2 separate regions of the Homo sapiens genome follow, and region 2 is linked to region 1. Evidence: fine-mapped expression QTL. A gene starts in region 1. The other region holds a variant in brackets. All regions are shown on one strand. Distances are between the middles of the regions.

Region 1 (9,272 bases):
ATCACACACCGGGGCCTATCATGAGGTTGGGGGAGGGGGGAGGGGGGAGGGATAGCATTAGGAGATATACCTAATGTGTAAATGACGAGTTAATGGGTGCAGCACACCAACATGGCACAAGTATACATATGTAACAAACCTGCACATTGTGCACATGTACCCTAGAACTTAAAGTATAATAATAATAATAAAAAAAAGAAAGTGAGTTCACACTTGTTCAGAGAGTACAGGCTTTTGAGACAAACTTTCTGGGTTCGAATCATGGGTCTATTACTTTCTGTACCATTTTGGCCAAGTGACAGTCTCTCTTTGCCTCAGTTTCCTATTGAGTAACACGAAGGTCATAAATGCAATTACCTCATGGGGTTCTTATGACAACTAAAAGATGTGACACACTGGATGTTGTTTATAAAAGTGGCTGGTACATCAGGAGCAGTAAATAAGTGAAAGCTATCATTAATTATAATGATAAAACCTACCTTTCTGCAAAACAAAAATGTCTGAACTTCCGCTAAACTCCTTGCTACCTGAGAAATCATTCCCAAAGAATCTATGATTCCTTGATATTATGGAGAAAAACCTCAGGGTTTTTTGCAGATGTTTTCCCATAGAACTGTATTAGAAAAGATTCAACTATCTTTGGGGGTAGTGAAGTTTATTGTCAATTACAGAAATGCTCTGTCATGGACCAATTTATCCTATATTTTAAAGTGCAAAAAAGGTGATATATGAAGCATAGCCAAAATGTATTTCCTCTGCAAATAAAATATGCCAGTACAGATACACTGTTGTTTTTGTAAGATAATTTGAGGTTTATTTTATTCAAATGAACAAATATTGTTAAGAATCTACCCAAATCTAGCCGGGCGCAGTGGCTCATGCCTGTAATCCCAGCACTTTGGGAGGCTGAGGCGGGCGGATCACCTGAGGTCGGGAATTCGAGACCAGCCTGACCAACGTGGGGAAACCCCTTCTCTACTAAAAATACAAAAATTAGCCGTGTGTGGTGGCCAGTGTCTGTAGTCCCAGCTACACGGGAGGCTGAGGCAGGAGAATTGCTTGAACCTGGGAGGCAGAGGTTGCAGTGAGCCAAGATCATGCCACTGCACTCCAGCCTGGGCGACAGAGTGAGACTCCATAACAACAACAACAACAACAACAACAACAACAACAACAAAGAATCTACCCAAACCTGAGCCCCATGCTATGATGAATAAATGCAAAAGAAGCTGCAACTATGCTCCCATCCCATGAGATGATGCTGGAATGCTGGGATGATGAGACTGACACATATAAATCAACTAGTCCCTAAGAGGAGAAGCACAATTAAGTGCTAAACTGCATGGTGCAGCTCATAAAAGAGTTGCAGGAATTCAGGTGAGGAAGATTAAGGAGCCATAGGCTACTTAGGAAAGATGCACTCAGGAGAAGGGAGAAAGAATTTACCAGTTACTTTATGTATGACTTTGGTAAAGTTAGTTAGCCTCTCAGTGTTACTGTTTCCTCTTTTATGAAATTTGACACTTTAATGCATGTAAAATGCCTAGCACATTTTAAAGCAAGACAGGTTTTTGGTAAGTCTTAGAGAATGTGTAACATCTACCCAGAAAGAGAATTCCCAGATAGCAGGATAACCTGTGTCATGTAAAAGAAACAGGTATCCTTTTTAAGCCTTTTTAGATACAAAAAGGTGAACAAAAAATCCACAAGTAATAGTCCTACTATAATAAGTACAATATTCTGTGTTGAATAGCAACCACAGCTTTGCCTGTATGGCAAAATAACTCCCTGAGCACGTGAGCCTTGGTGCATGTTGACATTCCTAGAGAGTTCCTCCTTCCAAGCAAAGATTCTTTCTTTAAAAAAAAATAGGACATAAAGTATGCATATTTGCTTTTCCCTCTAAAATCCTTGCCCTTTACTGACCCTTCTCCTGAGCACTTGTCCGAAAGCAATCATAACCTGAGCTTTCCATCACCTACAAGGAATAGTTATAATCACAATCACTTCTCTAATGTAATTTTCTTCTAATACACAGAGAACATGAGATACATTACTTCTAATTTTAAATCACGTTCTCTATATATTCAAATATTCCTTATCACAGCTTTATACATGTTCGACAAGAAGAGAAGGAAGAGTTCCTTTAAAGAGTCTCAACGTTATTTGGGGGAAATTACATTCAGCAGAGTCCTGATTATACTTACATGATCCTAATTAGAGTTTTCCTAGCATTACTGGTAAGAGTGTTAATTACATTAATTACATAATGGCTTCTTTGACAAATAAAGCCATATATTCTAAGATTGGTCCAAGCCTGACACTCCTTTCTGCTTAAAAAAAAATAGGAGACATATTGGAATAATAGAAGTTTCCACTTTAGGCCGAATGAAATTATACCAGTTCAAAATAGAAGATGATTTCATGGCAATTAGAAACAGTCTTTGTGGAAAGTTCCAATATTCCTTTTTATTTACACCAAAAGTAATTCCAGCCATGCATCACAGGCTCCATCACTTGTAGAGAGAAATGCATTATATATTTCTGTAGACAGAAACGAAGTAAAGCCTGAAATGATTACCTTGACTTTTTCAGAAAGGAGAGAATTGGAAATACAGTGCTGGTAGTCCGAGGCTTTGATATGTAAACTCACCTAAATATGCTGGTCTTTTCAGAGTTCGTTTGTCATACAGTGTGACCACACAAACTTAAATTATTTGTAAAATAAAATTGTTTTCTCTGTGTTTTTCCTATCCTTTTAGAGCCTTTGAAACATATATAGAAATTCATTCTCCTGAGTAGGAAACTGTTACTATATAGAATAGAGCAGCCCTCTGGTTTGCCAGTGGCAGATAGGAAGGAGAGCAGAGTGACAACCCATATGCCCCTTACTTCTCTTCCGCAAGGAGCAAGTTGCAAGCAAGAGAAACTGTTTTCTGCTCATTTGCTCCTTTATTTAACATTTTAATAATCTATGGGATACTGTGTAAGGTAGTGTGCTAGGCACTCGATAAACAGAGGGAAACGAAACCATGATCATGTCCTCTTGCAGTTTACAGTCTCCTCAGATATCGTTTGTGGTATGTTTAGGCTTTAATTTTGTCTTTCTGTGCATTTGCCTAAGTATATTTCTGGTCTTGATATTGAAAGACAGATTCAAGCTGTAATACATCACAGCTGTTGGGCAGGAACTCACGGGAAGCCATGAGCAAGGTAGAAGGGGCTGCTATTAGAAACAACTTGAGGCACCCATAGATGCAACCAAACCTTAATCCAAGGTGTATTCATTTCATATTGCTTCTGTAACAAATTACCACAAATTTAATAGCTTAAAATGCACAAATTTATTTTCTTATAGTGCTGGAGTTTAGAGGTAATAACCTCAAGGTGTTGTCATTCCTTTGGAGGCTCTAGGATTGAATCTATTTCCTTACCTTTCAAGCTTCTAGAGGCTGCCTTTATTCCTACGATCCTGGCTCCTTCCTCCATCTTCAAAGCCAGCAACATAGCGATTTCCCTTTCCTCCCTCCCACACCTATTCTCCACCATTCCTTCCCTCTCTCTGTGCTTTCGTCCTCTTATCTTCTCTGACTGACCCTCCTGCCTCCTTCTTATAAGAAATTTGTAATTCCATAGGGCCCACCTGTATAATCCAGAATCATCTTCTCATCTCCAAATCTTTAACTTAATCATATCTGCGAAGTCCCTTTGGCCGCATAACTAAGACAGGTACATCTTTGAGGGCCATCAGGCTACTACCACACAAAGCAAATTAAGTAGAAAATAACGTTTGCCTCTTTTATACCTTGAGTCCACCAGCTGCATGTTGCCCTTTGCAAGTTTGTTTTCTACTTCAAGGCCATCTTAGTTGTCCATTTTAACTAGCCTTTCCTCACAAAATGGTGGTATGTGGCTCCCCCCACTGATATTTCTCTGAGGCCTTGTAGCTCTCTAAGACAGCACCAGTTTAACTCACAAGTCAACAAACTGGAACACTTCAACCAGAGACATTGACATCCCCCTCTAATGAACTCAGCTGATTGCTAAAGACAGATGCTTCGTTAGAGCCAAACATTCCTATCTTACATAACTAAATATGATAATAAATTAAGTTCTTGGGGCTGGAAATAGTTATAATTTCCTCTTTCTTGCAGTGAAAAGGCATGGAACATTTAGCAAACTGATCCTGGCTTAATTTCTACCGATACTATGCAGCACAAACTCTTATTTGATGCAGATTATAAATCGAAAATTAGCAATGAATACTATGCATCGCTTTAGTGGTAAGAGGCTGCTGAGTAGCTTTTTTTCCCCAGTAACCGTAGAGGCAAGAATTGATATTTTTATGTCACTTTTACTAAGAAGGGGGGAAACATTTTGCTATTAATCTTAAAGAGAAGTCTTTTGCTGCTAGTTACGTGGAGTAACAGGGAATAGATTTACCTTCCTGCCTCAAAAAAGTGAAGACCAGAAAAACATTTGTTTTCAGACACTGGAGAGCAGGCACTGTTACGGCTGTGATTTTACAACTGCTCCTACATGCTGGGAGCAGTCGCTAGATGCATCTCAAGGTGGGTCGTCCGCGCTTCCAGACTCAGCACAATCGACATTTATTTACGTAGGTAAAATTACTGTTGCTATGGGTAAATTCACAGAAATAAAGCCCAGAGAATCCGGTTGGCTGGCAGGGAGCGGCGGAACCAATCCCGGGCTCAGCAAGTTCTCGCGATACCGTGAGATCTCCAGTCCTGACGACACCGCCGCTGAAATGTTAGTGAGACTGTAGGGTGGGCGGTGCGAGCGGCGGTTAGCTCCCAGTTCGGCCTCTGAGGAAAACGGGCGTTCGCCTGCGGTTGGTCCGACTGTTAGCAACATGAGCGGCCTGGATGGGGTCAAGAGGACCACTCCCCTCCAAACCCACAGCATCATTATTTCTGACCAAGTCCCGAGCGACCAGGACGCACACCAGTACCTGAGGCTCCGCGACCAAAGCGAGGCGACACAGGTGATGGCGGAGCCGGGTGAGGGAGGCTCGGAGACCGTCGCGCTCCCGCCTCCACCGCCTTCAGAGGAGGGGGGCGTACCCCAGGATGCCGCGGGCCGTGGCGGTACTCCCCAGATCCGAGTTGTTGGGGGTCGCGGTCATGTGGCGATCAAAGCCGGGCAGGAAGAGGGCCAGCCTCCCGCCGAAGGCCTGGCAGCCGCTTCTGTGGTGATGGCAGCCGACCGCAGCCTGAAAAAGGGCGTTCAGGGTGGAGAGAAGGCCCTAGAAATCTGTGGCGCCCAGAGATCCGCGTCTGAGCTGACGGCGGGGGCGGAGGCTGAGGCGGAGGAGGTGAAGACAGGAAAGTGCGCCACCGTCTCAGCAGCCGTGGCTGAGAGGGAGAGCGCTGAGGTGGTGAAGGAAGGCCTGGCGGAGAAGGAGGTAATGGAGGAGCAGATGGAGGTAGAGGAGCAGCCGCCAGAAGGTGAAGAAATAGAAGTGGCGGAGGAGGATAGATTGGAGGAGGAGGCGAGGGAGGAAGAAGGGCCCTGGCCTTTGCATGAGGCTCTCCGCATGGACCCTCTGGAGGCCATCCAGCTGGAACTGGACACTGTGAATGCTCAGGCCGACAGGGCCTTCCAACAGCTGGAGCACAAGTTTGGGCGGATGCGTCGACACTACCTGGAGCGGAGGAACTACATCATTCAGAATATCCCGGGCTTCTGGATGACTGCTTTTCGAAACCACCCCCAGTTGTCCGCCATGATTAGGGGCCAAGATGCAGAGATGTTAAGGTACATAACCAATTTAGAGGTGAAGGAACTCAGACACCCTAGAACCGGTTGCAAGTTCAAGTTCTTCTTTAGAAGAAACCCCTACTTCAGAAACAAGCTGATTGTCAAGGAATATGAGGTAAGATCCTCCGGCCGAGTGGTGTCTCTTTCTACTCCAATTATATGGCGCAGGGGGCATGAACCCCAGTCCTTCATTCGCAGAAACCAAGACCTCATCTGCAGCTTCTTCACTTGGTTTTCAGACCACAGCCTTCCAGAGTCCGACAAAATTGCTGAGATTATTAAAGAGGATCTGTGGCCAAATCCACTGCAATACTACCTGTTGCGTGAAGGAGTCCGTAGAGCCCGACGTCGCCCGCTAAGGGAGCCTGTAGAGATCCCCAGGCCCTTTGGGTTCCAGTCTGGTTAACATTTGCCCTTGGGAATACTCCTGCACAAGGTCTCCTACCACCTTCTGCTGGACCTGTGCTTGGGCATCAGCAATGAGTATGCCTTCTATTGTGCTTTGTTTTTGCTGACTTTTCTGCACCCTGTTTCCTTTGGATATTCAGTTCTCTCAACCTCAAGATTGAGACGGTGGTGGGTATGCTTCTCCACTTCCATATGACCTTCATGCTGTTCTGGAATATCACATGCTACGAGGTCATCCTTCACACTACTTGTAAGCCAAGCAAATGATACTGTAGATTGTACTGCCTTTATCTGCACTGCTTGGACCCTGTTTATTCCCAGGGCCTCTGAACTGGTTGCTGTCACTTGGATTTCTAGCTTTGGGAGCCTGTTCCACCTACTCAGCTCTGCATTGAGCAGTATGGGCACATGCCCTGTGGACAGTTACTGGACGTTAATGAACTCAGAGGAGAAAAGCAGTGAGCCACTTGTTCTGTGTGATTTATGGTACTTCATTGCTCTTCCTTCACCTCTAGTCACTTTCTATTGCTACCTGCCCTACATTGGCTCCTGCCAAGGTCCCTCTCTCTCCCTGTTTTCCTTTTTTTTTTTTTTTTTTTTTTTTTTGAGACGGAGGACGGAGTCTTGCTCTGTCGCCCAGGTTGGAGTGCAGTGGCGCGATCTCGGCTCACTGCAACCTCCACCTCCCGGGTTCAAGCGATTCTCCTGCCTCAGCCTCCCGAGTAGCTGGGACTACAGGCGCGCGCCGCCACGCCCGGCTAATTTTTATATTTTTAGTAGAGACGGGGTTTCACCATGCTGGCCAGGCTGGTCTCGAACCCCGATCTCGTGATCCGCCCTCCTTAGCCTCCCAATCCTCTCTTAAAAAAGTGATAGCTCAGAAACATTTGTAAAAGCAAGGTTTTTATTTCATTTTGGCTCTGTCATTTTCAGAGGCAAAGAAGTTGGCCTGTAAAATAGAGTGCTAGAGCTCTTACGCCCCTCCCCTTCTTCCCAACTTCCTACTTCCTAGCCCTTTTATCAACTCCTAGAATAGTTAAAGAGAGACACATCTAGATGGGATGAAAGGTGCCCTAAGCAGGAGAAACTGAACAAAAGGCTAGAGGCATGGGCCAGGTAAAAATTGGGCCTAGAGTGAAGACTGTGCTGTCGTTAAGAGCTTTCGAGGAAGGAGTACTTACTCCCCAATGATGATGAATGGAAAAATACTTTTCAGGGAGAATTGAAGGGGTTAAAGTGTTAAATATGTTGCCTAGACAAGGGTTCTTTAAAGAAAGACAGCGCAACTTTGAATGCTTTCTTACTTGTTTTGTGACCTAATTTATGTGGAAGATTGTTATTTCATTAGGATTTAGTAAAATTTTTTTTTCTGATTCTAAACTTATTGTGAAAATTGAGCTGTACAGATATTCTTTTGATTTCAATTGGGAACATTTGGAAGAACAACAGTCTTACTTGCCTGTACAATATAGAGACATATGAATAGTCATAACAGTTTTCAACTTGTTCTTGTTTCTGTTAAACTATATTCCTAGAAACATAGTTTGAACAACTTGGTCTTTGTTAGGCTTGTCAAATTGCCTTCATGGAAAAATAATCTACAAAAGTATGGTTTAATTGATTGTCTTACATGATAATTTTCCCTGGTAACAACTTAGTAAGTGATATATCTTTTTTCCTAAATTGCTTAAATACTGTGAAATTGCTCTGACAAATTGGAAGTGTACCATTGGCATATTTGTCTTCCTTTTTATGCATGATGGTAAAATAAAAGCATGTTGTTCTGCTAGATTTCTTATTTTTCACCTTACCCATAAATGTAATGCTTGAATGAAGTTGTTCATATTAATTAAAAATTATGGAATCATTAAAGTCCTTTAATCCATTAAAGTTCTTAATGGATTAAAATCATTAAAGTTCTTAATGGATTAAAATCATTAAAGTCCTTAAATTGATGTTAACTAAAAATTACAGAATCATTAAAGTCCTTAAATGGACACAATAGACATTATCCCAAAGAGAAGAAAGCAGGGCACGGTATGTTTGGTACCTTCCAAGGTAGTTTGCCTTAAAACGTTAGCAGTTGCAACTGCTTACTCAATCACTTTTTTCCATGTAGTTTATGCAGCACAACCTCCCCTTCAGTTGCTCAAATCCTCCATTTCTGTCTCCATAAATTATATTCTCAGGTTATTCAGGCTCTTCTTTTTATTAACTTGTATGCAGGGAGTACCTATCATATGTGATGTACTCCTCTATTTTCATACTTTCTCATCTGTAAAAACTTCCTTTTTTTCTTTAAACTTCCTCACTGTTCTCTTCTGTCAAATCCTTCAAGGCCTGCCCTTGGTAATTCCTCTGCCAAAGTCTTTCTGTTCCCCATAGAGGAGATAAATGTTTCTTTATGCACTTAGTGTACTTTGGAGGGACCTCTGTTCTAGAAAATTAACATAATTATTCATTACAGTGAATTCCACAAATAGAGAAAAAGAGTAAGAAGATAAAGTCCATTCCCTTCTTTGGGGAACTGGGGAAGGACTGATAAGCAAACAAAGAATTAACAGAGTGATACAGTAAAATAAAATACAGAGATTATATTTTCATGTTTTTCCCATGTTCACTCTTTTCCTCTCAGTAGTTTGGAAACTTTGTGAAAGTGGAGATGCAGTGCATTTTACATGGTTCATTGCATCTAGCATTTTTTTTTTTTTTTTTTGAGATAGAGTCCCACTCTTGCCCAGGCTGGAGCGCAAGTGGCGCGATCTCGGCTCACTGCAACTTCCGCCTCCCGGTTTCAAGCAGTTCTCCAGCATCAGCCTCCCGAGTAGCTGGGACTACAGGCACGTGCTACCACGCCCGGCTAATTTTTTGTATTTTTAGTAGAGATGGGGTTTCACCATGTTAGCCAGGATGGTCTCCATCTCCTGACCTCGTGATCAGCCCACCTCAGCCTCCCAAAGTGCTGGGATTACAGGCGTGAGCCACCGCACCCAGCCCATCTAGCATAATGTTTTGCATAGTTGTCAGCAGATAAATATTGAATGACAAAACTCAGATGGAGGAAAAAGAACAAAATAACCTAG
Region 2 (9,272 bases), 43 kb before region 1:
TCAGAAGTTTTTCCTAACGCTGTCCCTTAAACTCTCCACTTCCTTTACTTACTGTTCACCTTATGATGGAAGAGATGGAGAAATCAGTGAGATTTTATTTTAATTTTCTGCTAGGAAATAATCTCGTAAAGTCTTTGGCTCACTTCTTTTCTGTACCTCAAGGGTCAATAGTTTAGTCTCTCTGATGTGCTGTGTAACTAAGTAACTGAATAAAACAGAGTTTGTTCTGGAGCAGAATGGAGCTCTATAAGCTGGAGATTCCAATCCTCGACTTTTTCCTGTTTTTTCTCTCTTTACTGTATGCACTGTTAAGTATCTTTGGACCCCTTAATTTCCCTCTAGGAGAAAGCCATCCATTTCCGCTCGAGTTAGAAGGCTTCTACAGAAGGCCTGAATATTTGAAGATCATACAAATGACCCCAACAACAGCCTAATGGGTGAAGGTTAATAAATGTGAAGCAACATGAAAATCTAACTGCCTGCCTAATCATTTTGAAGAGTCTACTTACAGTTATATTTTTAACTTAGGCATTCCCTCTTTATAGATTGTTCTACTAGAATGAAGTAAGAAAAATATTTTACATTCTCATCTCTCTAGTAATTTTTCTGCTTCATTTTGCCCTTACATACTATTTCACCTATTTAGAGATTTTGATACATTTTGCTGTTCTTTCCATTAAGTCTTCACCTAAATTCATGCTTTGTACCTCAGCAGTTAAGTTTCAGGGAGTGCCTAATATCCTTACATTTGACAGATGAAGAGAGAACCTAACAGTTTTCTCGGCCAAGCAAGAGAGACACAGTGTAGGACTGTAGTGAGTCAGGATTTGGCTGCCTCAGTATCCATTCAGAAGACGCCGGTGGTGCCGCAGCATGGGATAAATGCACAAAACAGTGAAAAGAGACAAATGGTCCAACAGCATTATGTTGGCATCATTTAAATCTTATCAGCAAGATACCCTAAGGAGGTGAACTGGCACAAATATCACAGTAACTGCCAAAAAATTTCATCACTCTTGGCATAAGCAGCTCCTAAGATATTTGAAAGTTTTTTGGTGGGGGGTGGGGGAGTTAAAGAAAAAGCTGAAAAGAACCCTTGCCTCAGATTTTCCTTTCGTCTCTAGAGGCTATGACTCCTTAGGACTCCCGCCGTCCTCCCCTCTGAGCTCCTCTAGGATGAGGCCTGTCTTCTGGTTACTATAATTAAGGGAGGAGACCACCCCTCATATTGTCTTATGCCCAATTTCTGCCTCCAAAGAAAGAAAAAGATAAAACTAAAAGGCAGAAATGAAATCCACAAGCAGACAGCCCGGCGCCACACCCTGGGCCTGGTAGTTAAAGATCGACCCCTGACCTAATCGGTTATGTTATCTATAGATTACAGACATTGTATAGAAAAGCACTGTGAAAATCCCTGTCCTGTTTTGTTCCAATCTAATTACTGGTGCGTGCAGCCCCAGTCACATACCCCCTGCTTGCTCACTCGATCACGATCCTCTCATGTGCATCCCCTTAGAGTTGTGAGCCCTTAAAAGGGAGGAGAATTGCTCACTCAGGGAGCTCGGCTCTTGAGACAGGAGTCTTGCCGATGCCCCCGGCTGAACAAACCCCTTCCTTCTTTAACTTGGTGTCTGAGGAGTTTTGTCTGTGGCTCGTCCTGCTACATAGTGATAGGCCAGGAAAATATCTGAATGCTTGCTATAAGTCAGATAGCAAACTATACATGGGTTATGTATTTGAGAAGGTAGAAGTGGTCCTTACATGGAGGGCAGAAGACAATTCCACAGCATGCATTAGTATGGCAAACAGACGTTGTATAAACATCTTAACTTGGCAGGAGAACACCTACCTACTACTCCAGTTGCAACACAGGACATTAGGTTTTATTAAAAAAATGATGAAAGTTGCAAGAAATCTGGGGATGAAGGCAAGATAGAAGATAAAAACAAATCATTTTGTACAATTCCTCTAATCCAAAAGGGAAGGAGCTCATATGTTTCTGATGATACCTACCTCAAGAACTAAAGAGCTGATGGAACTTTGGAGATTATGTATCATGCAGTACTCATCCTGGAGTGCACATCACAACTTGTGGTGGACATTTTTCAAAAATCATGCATGGTTTCACCCCAGACATGGGGAAGAAACATCTGAAAGTGAGGTCTTGGGACTTAGAAAATTTAGGCAACCATGAGTCTCACTCGCCAGGGTTTTTCTTTTGCAGAAAATCCACCTTTTCCCAGTGACTTGTGGGTTTGGAGGCTTTGGTGTCTGAAGGACTCCTATGATGCCACCAGACATGATTCGGGGTTAGCAGCCACCTGGTTCCAGCCTTTCCAAGGAGGATTGTTTCCACCCTGGGTGAACCAGTTAAACTCTGCTGCTTCCCAAAACACACCTAACCCCAGAGTGGGTGGTATGTGTCCCTAGCTAATCTCCAACTGTTATGCAAAGGAGTCATTAGCACTCCTTATCAGTGCCTCATAGTACAAATATAAAATGGGATAAACTCAGAGAAAACTTAAAAGCACAGACATAGGAGAGTGCACACAGGCAGAAATGGACTGCATGCATCCCCAAAAGGGTGAAACTCTCCCCCTATAATATTCTACTCATTATAAGGAACAGAGAAGTGCAGTGAACATCAATGCAATGGAAAGAAGTAGTTGAAATGGAAGCCTGTTCTTTCCTTAAGCTAACTCAGGCTCCTCGAGCTACCAATGAGAGGGGATAATGAACTTCCGGGTCACCTGGGTTGTTCTACCATTGCTGTTTAACAAAGCCAGCTCTCTTTGTATTTTACATATACCCCTGCACACAACCCTCAGAATCTCATGTAGGTTCCAAAGCTACGTACGCTGCAACTATCCTATTCTAAAGCAATTGTGCTTTCCCTGTCCTTTGTGTTGATGAAGATCTAAAACTCATGGAGTCAATTCAAACAGCTACAAGGGGGTGGAGTTGGGATTTCACCTGTGACTATTTGACTTCCAAACTCATATTCTTGTCAATAATCTAAACTGCTGCCTTCCAGCAGGTTACTTGTCCTAAGCTATTAAAGCAAACTGGGAAAAATAGTCAAAATACCTTTGCTTTCCTGGATCTTGCCTGCTGTTGTATATATCTTGGAGTTAGGCCAAAAACTGAGGAAAATCTGCCCACCTGCCAATGGCAAGCTGATGAAGTAAGATATAAGTGAAGTCTAATAAAATGATGGTGAAATTAGCAGGAAAGCCTACTAGCAGACATAGCTTTGGGACTTGTGTTTCCCACATGTTAATACGAAGAAAGCCCCTTTGGAGCCTGGGGTGAGGGGTAAGAGGGGGACCTATTAACTGCTGAATTCAGATCTCACAGGTGGGCACTTCCTTTTCTCTTTTGTCCTCTTACCTTGCCTCTGAGGGTTGTTAATGAGTTGTGGTTTGACTATGTGGGGCAGGTTTGACTAGGGGGCCCAGAAAAAAAGAGAAGAGTTGGATAAATCAGCCATTAAAAATATATCCTGGCTGAAGAAGGATGGTAGAAGTGGAGGGAAGATAATGGAAGAGGGAATGAGAAGAAAGGTATCAGGAAAGATGCACATGATCAGGCTAATGACCTGTTTTCCCCTTATAGAAACCATATACAAAATTAACTATAACTTATTGCCAACTTAATTTTTTCTCTTGGTGTATATTTTATACCTGAAATGCTATTAAACATATTTCTTACTTTTCTGTTAGATTTAAATTTTCAAAACTTTCTTCAGAATATTTAAAAATCTTTGTGTTGTTCATTACAAATCAAATGACATGAAATTCCATTACCCTTAGAACTAAAATGAGTAAAATAGATCATAATAATATAAAGGTTTTTCCTGGACACACTTTTCGATAAGAACATTTAAAAGCACATTTGTAGACAAAGCACACTATAGCACCTGGCTGCTAAACGAATGTCCAAGAAGTAATTATTATCTGCCTTGCTGCCACTGAAAAGTTTTTTATTTTTCTGGCAAGTCAAATGTGAATCTCACTACTCAATAAAAAAATAGAAATCCAAATTAATTATTAGCTTAACAGTAGAAGAATCTAATAAGATTGAGTACAGTCGTGAAGAAACACAGTGAAAGATGTTCAGCTCTTATATTTCTCAGTATAGGATTTCTTACAAGGTAAATGACATGACATTGCTACAACTGAAAAAAATACATATTTTAAAGAAATCTGTTTAAAAGCTGGCTTACAACTGATGTGTAATTTTCACTTTACAAGGGAACTGGGAGAGAAATGTTTCCACTGACATCTTAAAGAATAACATTAACAAAACCAGACTTCAATTGTTGCAAATCTGGGATTCCATAATCACAGACCAGTAAAGCGCAAAATACTGTGAACCACTATCAGCTCTCTTTTCTGGAAGACCCTTATGCTCCCTGCATGGATAAATTATTTTCTGCAGGTGGTTAGGGGAGGACTTCCCACAGCCAGGAAGCAAAA[A/C]AATGCTCTCTACACTAACACTCCAACTTGCTCTACATGGAGTGCAGTGTCAAATCTGGGAAGTTACTCTTCTGAAACATTATTCTGCAGTCTCTTCTACCCTGCCACTTCTCTCTCTTCTCTCCATATTTAAACAGAAAATCTTGGTTGAGAGTCATTTACACATGCACATGGGCTGATTACATTTCAACAAATTGAAATCTCAGCTTCAATCACAGGTTTGCATTTAAATCTTATCACTGGTTGAGGAATGAAATACTTTTTCTTTATTTACTTTAAGCATCAACGAAATGATATATTTTAGGAAGAAGGCAATCAGAAACCTAAAAAATCACTCCAGGTTTATTCAACAGGTCCCAAAGGTAAATCTTATTTAATTGGGGTGGGGGGGCAGAAGTAATTTTGGGGATGGTGGGGAAGGAAAGGTTTGTCTAAAGACTCAGTGGCAGAGGCTCTGCTCCCTCTGGGAGGCTGGCTGAGGCCTACAGACCTTTGGGAACATCCAGGTCTTCATCTCTTTTATTTAACATCATATTCCACTTATTCTATTAAGGGAGGAGACCACCCCTCATATTGTCTTATGCCCAATTTCTGCCTCCAAAGAAAGAAAAAGTAAAAACTAAAAGGCAGAAATGAAATCCACAAGCAGACAGCCCGGCGCCACACCCTGGGCCTGGTAGTTAAAGATCGACCCCGACCTAATCGGTTATGTTATCTATAGATTACAGACATTGTATAGAAATGCACTGTGAAAATCCCTATCCTGTTTTGTTCTGATCTAATTACCAGTACATGTAGCTCCCAGTCACGTACCCCCTGCTTGCTCAATCAATCACGTCCCTCTCACACGCACCCCCTTAGAGTTGTGAGCCTTTAAAAGGGACAGGAATTGCTCACTTGGGGAGCTCGGCTCTTGAGACAGGAGTCTTGCTGATGCCCCCGGCCGAACAAACCCCTTCCTTCTTTAACTCGGTGTCTGAGGAGTTTTGTCTGTGGCTCGTCCTGCTACACTATCATGTGAAAAAATTGCGGCATGTTGATTGTCAGGTACTAGACGTACAGTAGTGAACAAAAAAGACAAAGTTCCTGCCCTTATGACACAGTATAGGGGAGAAGGCAGACACTACTTAAAGAACTGTAAATATTTGTTTGTTTATTTATTTTGAGATGGAGTCTCACACTGTCCACCCGGGCTGGAGTGCGGTGGCGCGATCTCGGCTCACTGCAACTTCCACCTCCCGGGTTCAATCGATTCTCCTGCCTCAGCCTCCCGAGTAGCTGGAATTACAGGCGCCGGCTAATTTTTTCTATTTTTAGTAGAGACGGGGTTTCACTATGTTTGCTGGGCTGGTCTCCAATGCCTGAACTCGTGATCCACCTGCTCGGCCTCCCAAAGTGCTGGGATTACAGGCATGAGCCACTGTGCCTGGCCAGGAACTGTAAATATAAGAAGAGTTTTTGTGGGCTGGGTGCAGTAGCTCATGCTTGTCAAATCTCGGTGCTTTGGGAGGCTGAGGCAAGAGGACTGCATGAGGCCAGGAGTTTTAGAACAGCCTGGCCAAGATAGCAAGACCCCCATCCCTACCAAAAAAAAAAAAAAATGAAAAATTAGCTACACATGGTGGCACACACCTTTAGTCCCAGCTACTCAAGAGGAGGATCACTTGAGCACAGGTGTTCAAGACTGCAGTGAGCTATGCTTACACAACTGCACTCCAGCCTGGGCAACAGGGTGAGACCTTGTCTCTAAAATAAATAAATAAACAAATAAGTAAATAAATAAGTAGGTTTTTTTAAATGAGTATTTGAAAGTGTGACCTGGGAAGCAATACCAGGAAGATGGAGCAGAGACAGAAGAGTTGCAGAACTGCTTTTCTAAGGAAGTCATGTTTCAGTGACCCATTCAACAATCTCACATAGCACAAGCAAGCCTGCTGACATGTGCAGCATGTCAGCTCTATCTCAATCTCTCCATCGCCTTAGTACACTCCTTCTTTGCCTTCTGTTAGGAGCTCAGTTGTGTATTCCTTAAAATACATATATTGAAATGCTAAGCCCTAGTACCTTAGAATGTTTAAGTGTAGTTGGATATAGGGCCTCTAAAGAGGTAATTAAGTTAAAATTAGGTCGTTAGGGTAGACCCTAATCCAATATCACTGGTGTCCTTATAAGAACAGAAAATTGGAACACAGGAAAGAGACATCAGGGATGTGCATGCACAGAGAAAAGGCCATGTGAAGAGGCAGCAATAGAGTGGCCACCTCAAGCAAAGGAGAGGAAACCAATGCTGCTGGTACCTTGATCTTGACTTCCAGCCTCCAGATGTGAGAAAATAAATTTTTGTTGTTTAATTCACTGAGTCTATGGTATTTTGTTATGGCAGCGCAAGCAAACTAATACACCTCCTTCCCTAAAGGAGGACTCCTTCACCTGCCCCAACCTGCACTGTTCTCTCCTTTGTTTTGTTCTCTCCAAAGCATAGTTTATATTTTCTGACTTATCTAGTATCTAATAAGTTCTTTATCTAGAAATACATCCTAGACTCTTGAAGGAGGATAAAAAAAAATTGACATATTCTTGCCAGAAAATCTCATTTTTACCAAAGGAGAAAACAAGATTCAGAAAGTCCCACAAGTAGAACTAAGCAGGAACACATTCTGATGTTGAGAGTAACCTTTGCAATAAAATATATACCTAGGAGGCATCTGGCTACGCATCCTCTTATATAAGCAATCCTGGTATTGGTCCCTTTCCTAACAGCTCTGCTGGTAAAGCTGTCTATTCTTTCTGTGAAATCTGGTAATGTAATCTTTGGGCACTAATCTAAAACCCATATTTGGCCAACAAACATTTCAGTGTTTGATTATGTGCTGGGTATTGTGCTGTGGTTGGTGAGTTAAACAGACACAGCTTATATCCTGAGAAAATGCATCAGGTGCTATGAGAACACATAAAAGGGGATCTTTTCCTAGAAAGTCAGGGACAGTTACCAAGAGTTAGTCCTGTTTAAACTGAGTTGTGAAGGTGGGGGTAGGATTCAGCTTATAGAATAGTGGGTAGACTGAACAGAAGTGCAAAGATGTGTAAACAGGAGGGAGAAGAACATATTTATGAAAACAACATGTTGGATGAGTTGACCAACATGACTGCAGTGAAGAAAGCGAAAAGGGAAGAATCAAAAGATGAAGTTTTGAAGGTGAGTGTCAGATCAACAGAGCCTCAAGGGCCATGTCAAAGATACATATTTACCCCAAAGGCCATAATAAGGCACTACAGTGTAGGATTTTAAGTAAGACCAGGATATGACCAGATTCTCATTTCACATTGTATTAGTTTTATGACATCCATTAGGGTTTTTCAACAAATACGTTCACTTCAGACCTCTTCTAAGTTGTACTTCCCTGCCTCTTCTTTCCATGTGAGATGTGACCATGTGATTTGCTTTGGTCAATGGAATGTAAGCAGAGGCTTCAAGGGCCAGTGTTAGATTCACCATATTTCCTCATTCCCTATAGCACAATAATTGGTAAACTTGAATAGCTTGGCTATATACACTTGTTAGCATGTGTCCCTGAATAACTACAAAAACAGAGTTCCCGTGCTTACAGTAAATATGTATAATTAGCTAAAAATAAGCTTTGGTTGTCTTATATCACTGAGCATTAAAGGTTGGTTTGTTACTACAGCATAACCTATCTACTCTGACTAATACAAGGGTGTATGTTAACTAATCTGTGAGAAATCCTCTAAGTAATTAGCCATGTTTATTCATCTATTCCCTATAATATTTATTTTTCAATGAACATCTTGAAAATAAATGGATAGTACTATGTCAAAGTGCTTAGAAAAAGTAAAGAAAGAATAAAGAATCTTAGAACTGAAGAGAGTTTAGAGATGACCTAGCCTATTCCCCTCAATTTCTAGAAGAGACTACTGAAGCATTTTTTTCAATGGTTTCATCCTAAACAGAAAAAGAGCGTTTTGGGCATTCTGTCCTCTATTTTAGTCATCTTTAAATCATATGTAAACATGTTAATACATATTTACTAGGTACACAGTTTTCTTAGACATTTCTGCTATGTGCTTTGTAGGATACGTTAGCATTATTATTGTTATTAATAAGCAAGTAGAAAAGAAGCTGATTTAATTCACTTTACTCTTTGGGTATTTCCTTCCAAAAAATATTTTTAAATTTCTCATTTTCTATTTACTTTTAACCCTTCATTTCTAAATTAGCCAGGTAATTTGATGCTGAAATTTAATTTCCTTCATTTTTAAAAAGACACGTATAGCTGAGAAACACAAACTGGAGCTTTGATATCAGTCAGATAGTTGTAAAGTTGCTAGTTTTGCCACTTACTAGTTGAGAGCCATGGGGCAAGTTAGTTTTAGTTTTGCTTTTTCAGTCTTCTTCTCTTTCTTTTTTTTTTTTCTTTTGAGATGGAATCTCACTCTGTTGCCCAGCCTGGAGCGCAGTGGTGCATCTCGGCTCACTGCAAGCTTGGCCCGGGTTCATGCCATTCTCCTGCCTCAGCCTCCCAAGTAGCTGGGACTACAGGCACCCACCACTATGCCTGGTTAATTTTTTGTATTTTTAGTAGAGACGGGGTTTCACTGTGTTAGCCAGGATGGTCTCGATCTCTTGACCTTGTGATCTGCCTGCCTTGGCCTCCCAAAGTGTTGGGATTACAGGGGTGAGCCACCACGACTGGCCCCTACTTTTCAAATGTGCATAATGACACCTAGCCCATTGGCTTGTTGTGAAGCATAATAATTATAATGCTACAAGAAATG

What was found. PIP is the estimated chance that this variant, and not a neighbour inherited with it, causes the effect.
Region 2: its variant is fine-mapped to the expression of TSPYL1 in whole blood (TOPMed, PIP above 0.99).

The regions. Positions count from the first base shown.
Region 1 is chr6:116,275,432-116,284,703 of GRCh38, reverse strand. TSPYL1 (TSPY like 1) reads left to right here and starts at 4,774. Exons shown (of 1, transcript NM_003309.4): 1 at 4,774-9,272. The coding sequence starts at 4,874. The coding sequence ends at 6,187. It also overlaps a transcript of DSE not described here. RefSeq lists enhancers at 4,781-4,840, 5,071-5,340, 5,361-5,410.
Region 2 is chr6:116,318,145-116,327,416 of GRCh38, reverse strand. It overlaps a transcript of DSE not described here. Among named protein-coding and RNA genes, the nearest start is that of TSPYL1, 43 kb to the right of the region's middle. RefSeq lists enhancers at 1,554-2,055, 3,078-3,645. The variant A/C (reference allele first, on the strand shown) is at 4,479.